Homo sapiens: one gene and its partners. The protein of the gene in region 1 purifies or fractionates together with the protein of each later gene. This does not show direct contact. Each region holds a gene or a part of one and is shown in the gene's direction. Other genes may lie near its edges.

Region 1 (2,977 bases):
TGCTGACTCTGCCCTACCCTGCCTTGCCCTGGAGAGGCACAGCACTCCCCATCCCTGCCTCCTGACACCAGTTCTGCCCCCACAGAGGTGTCCACCCTGCAGCCGCTGCCTCCTGGGCCCCGGGCCCCAGCCCCCCAGCCCCTGCCGCCCAGCTCGCGGCTCCAGGATTCCTGCAAGCAGGGGCATCTTGCCTGCGGGGACCTGTGTGTGCCCCCGGAACAACTGTGTGACTTCGAGGAGCAGTGCGCAGGGGGCGAGGACGAGCAGGCCTGTGGTAAAGGGGCTCAACCTCCTGCAGACCTCCTGCTGCGGAGCCAAGGGGGTAGGCGCCGGGGCAGGCTGAGGACTCTGAGGACTCTGCCATTCAGTGCCGGCTGCTGTTCCAGGCACCACAGACTTTGAGTCCCCCGAGGCTGGGGGCTGGGAGGACGCCAGCGTGGGGCGGCTGCAGTGGCGGCGTGTCTCAGCCCAGGAGAGCCAGGGGTCCAGTGCAGCTGCTGCTGGTGAGGCCCAAGGCCCAAGGCTCAAGCCCCCGCCCGGGTGTGAGCAGCGTCCTCAGAGGGGTCTCTGCTCTGCCTCTGCACTACAGAGGGTCTCTGGACTGGGGATCCCTGAGGGACAGAGTGGGGCCCTGGAAGGGATGAGGCTCTGAGCACCATGCTCTTCCCCTAGGGCACTTCCTGTCTCTGCAGCGGGCCTGGGGGCAGCTAGGCGCTGAGGCCCGGGTCCTCACACCCCTCCTTGGCCCTTCTGGCCCCAGCTGTGAACTCCACCTGGCTTATTATTTACAGAGCCAGCCCCGAGGTACCGCCACACTCCGCAAGTTCCCTGGCCAGCCCCTGGGTGCTCCCTGCACAGTGGGAGGGGTCTGGGGCCGGGTGACCCACAGTGCCCCCCGCCCCGCTGGCCAGGCTTCCTGGCACTAGTTGTGGTGGACAACGGCTCCCGGGAGCTGGCATGGCAGGCCCTGAGCAGCAGTGCAGGCATCTGGAAGGTGGACAAGGTCCTTCTAGGGGCCCGCCGCCGGCCCTTCCGGGTGAGGAGGGCAGCCCAGAGTGGGAGCTCCGCTGGAGCGGGCCCTGACTTAACCATCCTCCTCATCCCCCTACCCCATGAAGCTGGAGTTTGTCGGTTTGGTGGACTTGGATGGCCCTGACCAGCAGGGAGCTGGGGTGGACAACGTGACCCTGAGGGACTGTAGCCCCACAGTGACCACCGAGAGAGACAGAGGTTCCTGCTGCCCATCCTCACTCCCACCTGGGTGCTCCCCTTACACTCCTCCAGGGACCCCGGAGCTTCCACCTTCTCAGGGCTCTGGAGGGGGAGGGGAGAAGGTGTGTGACGCCACCTGGCCCCACCCCCAGAGGTCTCCTGTAACTTTGAGCGGGACACATGCAGCTGGTACCCAGGCCACCTCTCAGACACACACTGGCGCTGGGTGGAGAGCCGCGGCCCTGACCACGACCACACCACAGGCCAAGGTAGGATGGGCGCTCAGACCGGGGGTGGCTTTCAGACGAGAGTGGGGCATCTCTGCAGCACAGCCCCATGCCCCCTGCAGGCCACTTTGTGCTCCTGGACCCCACAGACCCCCTGGCCTGGGGCCACAGTGCCCACCTGCTCTCCAGGCCCCAGGTGCCAGCAGCACCCACGGAGTGTCTCAGCTTCTGGTACCACCTCCATGGGCCCCAGATTGGTGAGTGGACCTGGAAACAGGGCAGAGCCTGTGGGGAGGCCCCCGGGGGTTCAGAGTCCCCCGCTCTGACACCCATCAAGGCACAGGAGAGAGGTCAGTTATGGACTGGTCCCCTCCCTGCAGGGACTCTGCGCCTAGCCATGAGACGGGAAGGGGAGGAGACACACCTGTGGTCGCGGTCAGGCACCCAGGGCAACCGCTGGCACGAGGCCTGGGCCACCCTTTCCCACCAGCCTGGCTCCCATGCCCAGTACCAGGTGAGGCCTGGCACCCGGGTGGGAGGACAGGGCAGGGCCCCTGGCCAGCTGACACCCTCCACCCCCAGCTGCTGTTCGAGGGCCTCCGGGACGGATACCACGGCACCATGGCGCTGGACGATGTGGCCGTGCGGCCGGGCCCCTGCTGGGCCCCTAATTACTGCTCCTTTGAGGACTCAGACTGCGGCTTCTCCCCTGGAGGCCAAGGTCTCTGGAGGCGGCAGGCCAATGCCTCGGGCCATGCTGCCTGGGGCCCCCCAACAGACCATACCACTGAGACAGCCCAAGGTATGGGGGCCTGGCAGGGGCAGGGATTGAGGGGCTGGCCAGGGGCTGGCAGGCTGATGCTGGCACCTCCAGGGCACTACATGGTGGTGGACACAAGCCCAGACGCACTACCCCGGGGCCAGACGGCCTCCCTGACCTCCAAGGAGCACAGGCCCCTGGCCCAGCCTGCTTGTCTGACCTTCTGGTACCACGGGAGCCTCCGCAGCCCAGGTGAGGGGCTTTGGGAGGGGGCCCCAGTGGGCTCAGGGAAGCTTGGCCTGGTGTCCCCACCAGCCTTGTGCTGAGGCCACTGGGGAGCCTCTTGCGCCCGCCAGGCTGGGAGCCTGGGAGCTCAGACCAGGGCCTGCAGGTGCTCTCCCCACACTGCTGACCTGGGCCGCCCCTGCTGGCAGGCACCCTGCGGGTCTACCTGGAGGAGCGCGGGAGGCACCAGGTGCTCAGCCTCAGTGCCCACGGCGGGCTTGCCTGGCGCCTGGGCAGCATGGACGTGCAGGCCGAGCGAGCCTGGAGGGTGAGTGCAGGGTGGGGTGCCCCTCCCCCTCCCCCTCCCCCGAGGGCTGCCTGGACCCGCTGAGGCTGCCCTGCCCTGCACCCGCCAGGTGGTGTTTGAGGCAGTGGCCGCAGGCGTGGCACACTCCTACGTGGCTCTGGATGATCTGCTCCTCCAGGACGGGCCCTGCCCTCAGCCAGGTGGGAGCCCTGCCGTGGCCTCGGCCCTGCTCTGGGGTGCCTGCCT
Region 2 (3,500 bases), on another chromosome or scaffold:
GATCCCAAATTCTCATTAGCTTTATTTTTAAGTATCATTTCCCTGTTCTGCAGAGGGATATTATCCATAGCTTTTGTATTTTACTACCTCAAGGAGATGCAGCTAATAAATAAAAGCTCTATGAGTACTTATGGCTTTGGGAGTAACTGAAGACAAAAACTACTAGTGGAAAACTGTATACAGATTCTGGCCTTCAGGTGGATTTCCCAGCCCTCTTTCTGTTTGCTCATTCCACATTGTGCTAGGTCAAGACTGTGAACATTCTAATCTTCTTTGTGGGCATCTTCTGAGAAGAATTAGACATACATGTCTTAATTTCCAAAGTGCAATAGCCAGGCCAGACCTTTCTGGCTTAGATGAGTGAATACCTAGATAGCCAAGGTAATGGATGCAAATGGCCCAGATCTGTTTCTGTTGGCTCAGAGTGATGTCTTGAGTTTGGTTGAAGGGCAAAGACAGGTATTTAGAACTTGAACTCTAGTTCTATGAAGTGAAGAGTTGGACTCCTGGACTTCTGGTTCCAGGAGTCATACTACTGTTTTTTGGTTGTAATAGTGAGTTTTGGGACAATGCCAATCACCTGGGATATTTCTTTGGCCTTCTTGTAACCTTGCCCATCTCTATCATTGAGCCTAATTTGGTCTTTGACCTTCATAACATGGTGGCATCTGGGTGGCCATTTCCCTTTCTGACACGTTTTCTCTAAAGTCCCCTCACTTTCTTTGTATTTTTTTCTTGGCTTTTATGGCAGAATGGAACAGGGGACTCAAATGATTTCTGGCGGATTGAGGTCGTAAACAGGAAATTTGGAAACCGGATCAAAGTGCTGAGAAGTCGAATTCGCTTCATCCATTTGGTCACAGGTTGTGTCCTGGGCTCCTCGGGAAAGGTTCTGCCCAAGTGGTAAGTCTCTAGGGTTTTGCTGTCCCAATCGAGGGTCCTGATTTTCCTTTCACTCTACAAGGAGTATGCCAGAAGCTTTTGTTTTCCTGTGTTCACCTGCTGTCTGCTTGTTCTTAGTGGCAGATGGAGGGAGAGTAGATATCAGGTGTATTATGGAGCACAGAACTCCGGGGGAGCTTCGGTGTTTTATGTGTTCTGATAGTTCAACATTTTCACATCTGGCTGGTGCTAATAACTCTCTGGGTCTATGTCTTTTTCTAAAATGGGAATACTGTATGCTAGACTATCCTAGGATAGTTGTCCAACATGGAACATGAAGAAATAATGGCCACCATGTGGAAAAGAGAAGGAGCCTGTGGATTTAAGAGCAGAAGACAGTGTCACTCTCTGGTGGATTTCACGTCTTCTGAGAGACATCTGTGACTTCTGCTTTTCACAGGGGCTGGGAGCAGTTGGAAGTTACTTGCACCCCATACCTGAAAGAAACCCTCAACTCCATCTGGAATGTGGAGGACCATATCAATCCCAAGTGTGAGTGAGGTCACTTTCTGGGCTGGCTCTGGAGGGAAGCATTTATAAGAAACCCTTATCTTAGAAAAGTAAGCGTTTGTAAACTGTGCTATCCCTTCAACTTGCTGCTGTTTGTTCCTTGTTAACACTCTCTTTCTATGAGTTGTCTGTACCTACATAGCATACTCCTTTTCCTTCTCATCCACTCCCTCCGTAAACTCCTCTCCCTAAAGTGGCCAGTGGCCATCTGCAGATCCATCTGTCTCGTCTTCCTCTGGGCTCCTCTCTCCCCTGCACCATGGGCACCTCCCCAGCCTCCAGGCTTGGAGCAAGCTGCTACTTTCCCTTTATGCCTCAGTGTAGAGTCGCTCCCCCGCCCCCCCACATATCCAGCCAATGCTTTTATAGAAAGTGACTGCCACAGCCCTGATCTGTGCCCCACATCTCTACACCCAAGCTCCAATTTGATATTTCCACTGCGTTGTCAGCTTCAACTCAATAAGTATTTGGATTCATCATCTGTTTTCCTAAACTACCCACCTCAAGCTTATGTGTGCCTTCATTTTGTTCTTCTTCCCACCTAATCTAGCCAAACCCACTAATCAACTAATTCAACAACTCTTTATCAAGTATGCCAGGAACCACATGGGGCCCTGTGGACATATTGGCGAGGAGACAGACTTGGTCCCCATCCCGACAGCAGCTGCTCCAGGCGTCCAGAATGATTTATTCCTCATTCCCAGGCCCTTCAAAGGGCCACAGTGACTCGGGGGCTGTGCAGCTGTCCCTTATGCCTAATAGGAGAGCAGCATTTGAGCCAGTACCACAGTGAAAAGCAATGGTGCTGGGAGCTGTTGGAGCACCAAGCAGGTGAAACCTTGTTGTCTATTTCCTTTGCATTTCTTAGAATGCCTGATGAGTTCTTCATACAGCTAAGTAAATGATCAAGAATTGGGCCAAGCTTTCTTCTGTCTCCTCAACAGTTGTGAACTTGTCAGCAAGGCTGCATTTGGATTCTGGTGGGAATGTGGACACCATGGACAGACTGAGGAAAGAATGTATGACAAAGGCTTTTCTCCTGCATTTTTTTCCCCTAGTGCCAAACATCAGCCTGGATGTGCTACAGCCCAGTTTTCCTGAGATCTTGCTGGAATCCCACATGGTCATGATCCGGGTATGTGTCCCCTTCTCATTTCATGGCGTCTCTAAGAGCTTTTGGGCAGCCATGAATTTGGATCACAAGTCAATGCCATGCTACAGATCCATTCCCCCTTGTGGAGGAATTTGAAAGCATCTTTACTACGGTTTTCTGTGATCCTCAAAGGCATTTCCCTCACCACAGAATGAGGATGGTGGTGATGATGGTGATACCAGTGACTGCTTGTACAGCTCATGTGCCAGGCACTACGCTAAGCACTATACTCATCTGATACTTATTACAATCATATGGAGGTTGCCATCATTCCCAGTTACAGGAGAGGGAACTGACATACAAAGAGGTCAGGGAACTTGCCCAGGGTCACACAGCTAAGTGTAAGAGGTAGATCCAGCCCTCAGAGCCAGGCTGGTAGGCTTTTAGAGTTACTGCTAGTTACCACTACACTCCTTCACCTCTAAGTGATTTGTGAATCTGCCCAAGTGGCAGAGCCCCTGAAAATCATAGTGCTCTTGGTTGAAGATCATGAGATACTGATAGTTCATTCCATCATATGAAATCAGGATCAGTTAGGATGGATAGCTAATTTGAGTGTGTTGTTTATATGCAGCATGAAATCCCAGCCACGAGCCCACTCATATTCCTGGACAGAAACTGCTTAGGCAGGGCATGATTGATTCTTTTTAAGGTTTTCTAAGACATTGTTTGCACTCTCTATCATTAGTAGCTGACAGCAGTTGTAGCATCAAAGGTTTAAGAAAAATTCAGAGAAGAAATCTTTAAATTGAGAAAATTCTACTCACTAGCTTAAATTTTCCCCTGCTGTAGTCCTGCTGTTTAGTGGAAGACCCCCTTATTCTGGCTTATGGAAAACCTGTGTTCTGCAGGAATAATGTTTAAGAATCACTATCTCAAGCCAGATATGTGATTA
Region 3 (3,500 bases), on another chromosome or scaffold:
TAGCAAGGGAAAGGCCCTGAGGTTGGAGTGTGTTAAGGCAAGTGAGGAGGCCAGTGAGATTGGAATGAAGTGAGGGGGAAGGAGTTACAGGCAAAAAGATCAGGAATATAGGGTGGAGAGAGTGAGAGAATAGATTATTATAAAGCTTTACTATTGCCATGACTAAGTTTTACTAGGATGGCAACGGGAGACTGATAATACACATTAGCATATCAAGGGCTGAAGTCTGCGCATAAAGAGGCCTGTTAGACCCAGTGTCAAACGTTTTTTATTCCAATGTTTATTGACATCCTACATTACTAATGTTTTGCAGAATACAGTTTGGTAAACATTGTTCAGAAGTATCAGGTGAGCTGTGTTTTGATAAATATATAAAAGCAGTCATTTGTTTTAAATTCATTTGTTTCTTGTAGGTTATCACTGTGAATATAAGATGCGGACAGGAAGGAAACCTGATGGCTGTGCTATTTGCTTCAAACATTCCAAATTTTCACTCTTGTCAGTGAACCCAGTGGAATTCTTCCGCCCTGATATTTCTCTGTTGGACAGAGACAATGTTGGATTAGTTTTACTCTTACAGCCCAAAATTCCATATGCTGCCTGCCCTGCAATCTGCGTAGCAAATACGCATCTGTTGTATAATCCAAGGCGAGGTGATATTAAGCTGACGCAATTGGCAATGCTACTGGCAGAGATTTCCAGTGTTGCCCACCAGAAAGATGGCAGCTTCTGCCCTATTGTTATGTGTGGTGACTTTAATTCTGTTCCTGGTTCTCCACTATATAGTTTCATAAAGGAAGGAAAATTGAATTATGAAGGACTTCCCATAGGAAAGGTAAGTGCTTTCTTCATTGTTATTAGGGAGTGGACATAGTTGCTCTGCTCATGATAATGTGAAGATAGTCATTACATGGCTATTTGAAAACCTTGGATGATCCAGTACCCTCACTTTATCAAACTATGATTTTCCATGACTTTTTTTTTTTTTTTTTTTTTTTTTTTGAGACAGTCTCACTCTGTCGCCCAGGCTGGAGTGCAGTGTCATGATCTCAGCTCACTGCAAGCTCCACCTCCCGGGTTCAAGTGATTCTCCTGCCTCAGCCTCCCGAGTGGCTGGGGTTACAGGTGTGTGCCACCACACCTGGCTAATTTTTGTATTTTTAGTAGAGACGGGGTTTCAGCTTGTTGACCAGGCTGGTCTCGAACTCCTTACGTCGTGATCCACCTGCTTCGGCCTCCCAAAGTGCTGGGATTACAGGCGTGAGCCACTGTGCCCAGCTTCTTCTAGTAAGTAATTATTTTCACTTGGTTGATTTATATCTTTTTCATCTATCTGTGGCAACATACTGCTTGGAGGAATTAACAGGCAGCAAAAAAAAAAAAAGTATTGACAGACATGGATACTTCACCGATAAGTAACACAAGGTGGCAGGATAGAATTTTGAATGCTGGTTGTGGGCAAAATAGTAATTTAACATTTATTATACAAGTTTCCGTTGTAGAATAATAAATATTTTCTTTAGCTTAGCACAATTTATCTCGTGATTATTTTTATTGTGCTTTCCTCTCCTTACTTTAGATCATTTCATCTTCAGTATATTTACCAAAATAAGCTCTCCAACACTGGAGTTTTGAGTAATAGTTTAAAATTATTTATTTTTTTTTTTGAGATGGAGTCTTGCTCTTTCGCCAGGCTGGAGTGCAATGGTGGGATCTCGGCTCACTGCATCCTCTGTCTCCCAGGTTCAAGCAATTCTGCCTCAGCCTCCCGAGTAGCTGGGACTACAGGCTTGCACCACCAAGCCCGGCTAATTTTTTGTATTTTTAGTAGAGATGGGGTTTCACAGTGTTAGCCAGGATGGTCTCTAACTCCCAACCTTAGGTGACCTGCAGGTTCACCTCGGCCTCCCAAAGTGCTGGGATTACAGGCGTGAGCCACCATGCCCAGCCAATAAGTTTAAAATTTTGTAAGAGTTAATCTCTCTTAGTACAGGTATACTTCATTTTATTGTGCTTTGCTTTATCGAGCTTCAAACATACTGCATTTTACAAAATTGAAGTTTCATAGCAACTCTACCTTAAGCAGCTCTATCATTGCCATTTTTCCAACAGCATGTGCTCAATTCCTGTCTCTGTCACCTTTTGGTAACTCTTGCATTACTCAAGCATTTTCATTATTATTAACATCTGTTATGTTGATCCAAGATTAGTGATCTTCGATATTACTATTGTAATGGTTTTGGGGTGTTATGAACTGTACCCATATAAAATGAGAACTTAATCGATAAATGTGTTCTGACTGCTCCACTAATCATCTCTCTCCCCCTACTTGGGCCTCTATATTCCCTGAAGCACAACCATATTGAAACTAGGCCAAGTAATAGCCCTGCAGCGCTCTCTAAGTGTTCAAGTAGAAGGAAGACTCACATGTCTCACTTTGAATCAAAAGCTAGAAATGATTAAGCTTAGCAAGGAAGGCATTTTGAAAGCTGAGAGAGGCCAAAAGCTAGGCCTCTTGCACCAAACAGCAAAGTTGTGAATGCAAGGAAAAGTTCTTGAAGGAAGTTAGAAGTGCTACTCCAGTGTATGAAGGCATAATAAGAAAGCAAAACAGCCTTATTGCTAATATGGAGAAAGCTTGAGTGGTCTGGATAGAAGATCAAACCAGCCACAGGATTCCCTTGAGTCAAAGCCTAATCCAGAGGAATGCATTAAGTCTCTTCAATTTTTTGAAGGCTGAGAGATGAGGAAGCTGCAGAAGAGAAGTTGGAAGTTAACAGAGGTTAATTTATGAGGTTTAAAGAATGAAGCCATCTCCATAACATAAAAGTACAGGTAAAGCAGCAAGTGCTGCTGATGTAGAAGCTGCAGTAGGTTATCCAGAAGATCTAGCTAAGATCATTGATGAAGGTGGCTACACTAAATAATAGATTTTTTTTTTTTTTTTTTTGAGACAGGATCTCGCGCTGTTGCCCAGGCTGGACTGCAGTGACACGATCTCGGTTCACTGCTACCTCTGCCTCCTGGGTTCCAGCGATTCTGCTTCAGCTTCCCAAGTAGGTGGGATTACAGGTGCATGCCTCCACGCCGGGCTAATTTTTTAATATTTTTTGGTAGAGGTGGCGTTTCACCATGTTGCCCAGGCTGGTCTCGAACTCCTGGGCTTGAGCAATCCTCCTGCCTCAGCCCCTCAAAGTGTTGGGATTACAGGCATGAGCCACCGCACCTGGCCAACAATTTTTAATGTGGATGAAACCACTTTATATTGCAAGAAGATGCCATCTAGGACTTCATAACTAGAAAGAAGAAGTCAGTGCCTGGTTTCAAAGGACAGGCTGACTCTTTTGTTAGGAGCTAATATAGCTTGTTACTTTAAGTTAAAGTCAGCATTCATTGACCATTCTGAAAATCCTAGGGCACTTAAAAATTATGCTAAATCCACTCTACCTGTGCTATGTCAGTGGAAAAACAAAGCTTGGGGATGACAGTGCATCTGTTTA
Region 4 (3,500 bases), on another chromosome or scaffold:
GCTTGCTTTCCCCTTTTCAAGTTCACGTTGGATTATAACTAATCTTTCAGTGCAAGGACAGCACACATACACCAGAGTCAGAGCTGACAAGTTTCCTGGGCATTATCTCTAACATGTCCAATCAGTTTCCCCCTTTGAACGGCAGCTGTCAGCCTGCTGTTCTACCCGTCTCCCCACAAGCCCACACATTTCAGAGAACAGCTGCGACTGTCACCTGCCTCATTTCACAGAGTTTGGACAGGGGTCCCATTTGGGGACCTTCACCCAGGGTTGTATGCATGAGCCAAGCTTGGTACCAGCTCCTAGGCATGATGCAGGGAGGACCCAGACCTCCAAATTGGGATATGAGGTTCAGAGAACAGCCTCCCTATCTCCCAGCCTGGACTTCAGACTTCTCCTCACCTGCTAAGGTCACTCTCACTGAGTCCCAGCAAGTCTCCTTGTCTCTTCTCTTGGTGGGCATGCCCTGGTCTGAATTACTCTTGGGTACAGCCCCCTCTCCCGCAGGCAGGCAGGCTGCCTCTCAATGCTTTGCAGGGCTCAGCTTGAGAAGGCATGGCGGGTCCTGACAGCCAACAAGAACCACACTTTCTTGCCTGATCTTCAGCGCCCCCACAGTCTGGCTCCCATGTCCCTCTTTAGCCTTGTGCTCACCTGGCAACAGCATCTGCCCAGGCCTTCCCCAACCCTCACGGACCCTCCTGGGTGGGCCCAGCGTCAGCCTGGGTAGGCTTTCCCCGTTCTGGGGCTGCCATGCTGCCATGAAGGTGTTACATTTGACAATACTGAGTTTCACTCAGCAATGGCCTCTTGTGTGCATTTTAGTTTTCTAAGTACATCATCATAAGTCTGCAAGCAAGGACCATATCCTAAATTTATCTGACTTCCCTACGGTCCCCAGTAGGCACATGACGGACACCACTCAGTGGCTGATGGGAAAGTCGAGGCCCAGCTTGGGAGACTTCTGACAATAGGGCCACAGGAGATGCCCCCCACCCCTGGTGGAGTGTTGGAGCAGACAGACAAGCTGCCTTCAAGGACATGCATTCTCTGATCATTAGGCTTGTGCCGCAGATGAGGTTTCGTGGGCAGAGTTAGCAGAGTTCTACGAAGATGGGCTGCCAGTGAATGTTTGCTCTGCGTGGATTCCAGCCTCACTTCTCCATTTTTCAGCTTGCCAAGCTTCCCTCCGGTTCACACAGTTAGGTGCTGTCATGACCAGGGACTTGTCTATGAGTGGCGTGTGTCCTGGTGAAGGCAGTAGCCTGTGGGATGATATCTGACAGAAACTTACTGTGGTTTGGGCTTAGGCAGCAGGAGCCCAGGGAGGACCTGCAGGCCTGGGGCTGGGGCTGGGGCTGGCATCTTGTCACAGCAAAGCCCTGCGACTCTGGAACAGTGGAAGTGGGTCCAGTTTTGCACATGGCAGGTGGCTCAAGCCCCACACTACCCATTCTCAGGCAGCACAGTTCCCACTGAGCAGCAGGTGGTCATCACTGTCACAGCTGCTGACCCTGTCAGCAGGGTCAGGGCAGCATCAGCTGTGCCACTGCGGCTGGTTCGAGGTTCACTGGCACACCTCCACGGTGTGGTGGCACTGCCCTCCAGAGCAGCCCCCTGAGCCACCTTTACCTATGGAGCCGGCCAGGGAGCTCAGGTGTGGCCCATGGCAGGCCATGGGGCCCAGGTGCCCTACAACTCTTTCTCCTCCCTGTGCTAACCCAGAGCTCATCCATAGACAGTGTCGGGGTCACTGTGACACACCCCTACTTCTTCCTGCCTAGGTTGCACAATTGAACAGTGATTAATTTACCTCCTCTTGGGAAATACTGTAGCTCTTTTTTTGTTGTTGTTTTTGAGACACAGTCTCGCTCTGTCCCCCAGGCTGGAGTACACTGGTATAATCTTGGCCCACTACAATCTTCACCTCCTGGGTTCAAGCGATTCTCCTGCCTCAGCCTCCTGAGTAGTTGGGACTACAGGTGCATGCCACCACACCCGGTTATTTTGGATTTTTAGTAGAGATGCAGTTTCACCATGTTGCACTCCTGACCTCAGATAATCCTCCCGCCTTGGGCTCCCAAAGTGCTGGGATTACAGGTGTGAGCCACTGGTGCCTGGCCCATGCTGTAGCTCTTACAGCAAACAAATGAAAAACAAATTGGCCTAATACTTTTTATTTCTGCTTTCGCTAGATGGAGCTAGAAATTTTTTTTAAAGGAAAGAAAAAAAAAAACCATATGGGTTTACAGAGACTGAACATCCCGCCAGGCATGTGTCACTTTGGGTTAGCCTAGTGCTCTGCCACTCTCAGTCAAGTGCCCACGGCAGCACATCAGACGGGTCAAGCGAGCACATTTGCTTCCCCAGGCACAAGCGAGTGGCACCCTGGTGGGTGTCCGCTTGTCAGCCACTCCTCAGCAGATGGGGTTGGGGGGCAGGCCAGCCCCACCCCTGGCACCCAGTGTTGCGCAGGCCCTGTGGACCTGGGACCTTCTTGGCAGGCTCTGGGCTGCAGCAGCAGCTTCCACGCCACCTCTTTGTTCACCGCAGTCTGTGTGGACCCAGCTTCCAGGATTGTTGCCTGCTGCTCTCATTAAGATGCCCGCGCCCTTAGCCTTGTTCTGCAATGAACAGGAATGAGGCTGTGTCCGCTGTGGCCCTGTGCACACCCTGCCTCGAGTCCTCATGCTCGGCCTTTCAAGAGGGATGGGAGTCATCCATGCATTGGGTCCCCTGACATCCCCAGAGGGAACAAGTGGGGACGGCACCTCCCAAGCCCAGAGCCAAGGGGCCACTCTTTCTCAGAGGAGGTCACGGAAGATCCTAGAACCCAGCCCATCCCCTTCTACAGGGGCTGTCATGCCAGCCCCCAGACCTCCCGTCCTCACTGTGATTTTCTAGCCTCTTGTCCATTGAAATGGAAAACAGATCTTGTTTTGAGAGGGGCCATTCCCACCCCTTCTCAGGGTGCCTGTGCGGTACAGACCGGTCTCCAACCCACTTCAGGTTCTTGTGAACTTCAAGAAACTGTCCTCTAACCTTCTCAGGACTGTGAGGCAGATGGATGCTGCCAGGCCAGCCCTTGCCAGTCCACAAGCGAGCATGCCAGTTGGTGCCGCTCCTGCAGGGCTGCAACTCGGCCCATGCCCCATGGCGCCCCACACCCCCACAGGCCTCACCTGCTCGTGCTTGTGTCATCCAGGCTAGGGCTCAGGGTTGTCCTGGTGCCTGAAACCCCTGCCTGCTGGGCCACCCATGTCAGCCTCTCCGTGCTTGCTCCATAGGGCCTGATGCACTCCAGCGGCCCCGTGGGCCGGCACCGGCAGCTCATCCTGGTTCTGGAGGGGGAGCTCTACCTCATTCCTTTCGCCCTCCTGAAGGGAAGCTCCTCCAATGAGTACCTCTACGAGCGCTTCGGCCTCCTTGCTGTCCCTTCCATCCGCTCCCTCAGCGTGCAGTCCAAGGTAAGGCTCACACACATGGTGGGGGGCCGGGGG

What was found.
Region 2: the proteins of MAMDC4 (region 1) and POMT2 purify together in Homo sapiens (affinity purification with mass spectrometry; one large-scale study listed by BioGRID and IntAct). This does not show direct contact.
Region 3: the proteins of MAMDC4 (region 1) and ANGEL2 purify together in Homo sapiens (affinity purification with mass spectrometry; one large-scale study listed by BioGRID and IntAct). This does not show direct contact.
Region 4: the proteins of MAMDC4 (region 1) and TTC28 purify together in Homo sapiens (affinity purification with mass spectrometry; one large-scale study listed by BioGRID and IntAct). This does not show direct contact.

Annotation. Positions count from the first base shown.
Region 1 is NC_000009.12:136,855,346-136,858,322, forward strand, and holds part of MAMDC4 (apical endosomal glycoprotein precursor), read left to right. Parts: intron 1-85; coding exon 86-274; intron 275-386; coding exon 387-503; intron 504-672; coding exon 673-804; intron 805-1,364; coding exon 1,365-1,481; intron 1,482-1,561; coding exon 1,562-1,696; intron 1,697-1,819; coding exon 1,820-1,953; intron 1,954-2,021; coding exon 2,022-2,241; intron 2,242-2,313; coding exon 2,314-2,451; intron 2,452-2,633; coding exon 2,634-2,752; intron 2,753-2,840; coding exon 2,841-2,931; intron 2,932-2,977. UniProt on the Homo sapiens protein: Probably involved in the sorting and selective transport of receptors and ligands across polarized epithelia.
Region 2 is NC_000014.9:77,282,884-77,286,383, reverse strand, and holds part of POMT2 (protein O-mannosyl-transferase 2), read left to right. Parts: intron 1-751; coding exon 752-903; intron 904-1,342; coding exon 1,343-1,434; intron 1,435-2,510; coding exon 2,511-2,587; intron 2,588-3,500. UniProt on the Homo sapiens protein: Transfers mannosyl residues to the hydroxyl group of serine or threonine residues. Coexpression of both POMT1 and POMT2 is necessary for enzyme activity, expression of either POMT1 or POMT2 alone is insufficient.
Region 3 is NC_000001.11:213,002,368-213,005,867, reverse strand, and holds part of ANGEL2 (protein angel homolog 2), read left to right. Parts: intron 1-413; coding exon 414-835; intron 836-3,500.
Region 4 is NC_000022.11:28,001,341-28,004,840, reverse strand, and holds part of TTC28 (tetratricopeptide repeat protein 28), read left to right. Parts: intron 1-2,161; exon of another isoform or gene 2,162-3,287; coding exon 3,288-3,467; exon of another isoform or gene 3,468-3,500. UniProt on the Homo sapiens protein: During mitosis, may be involved in the condensation of spindle midzone microtubules, leading to the formation of midbody.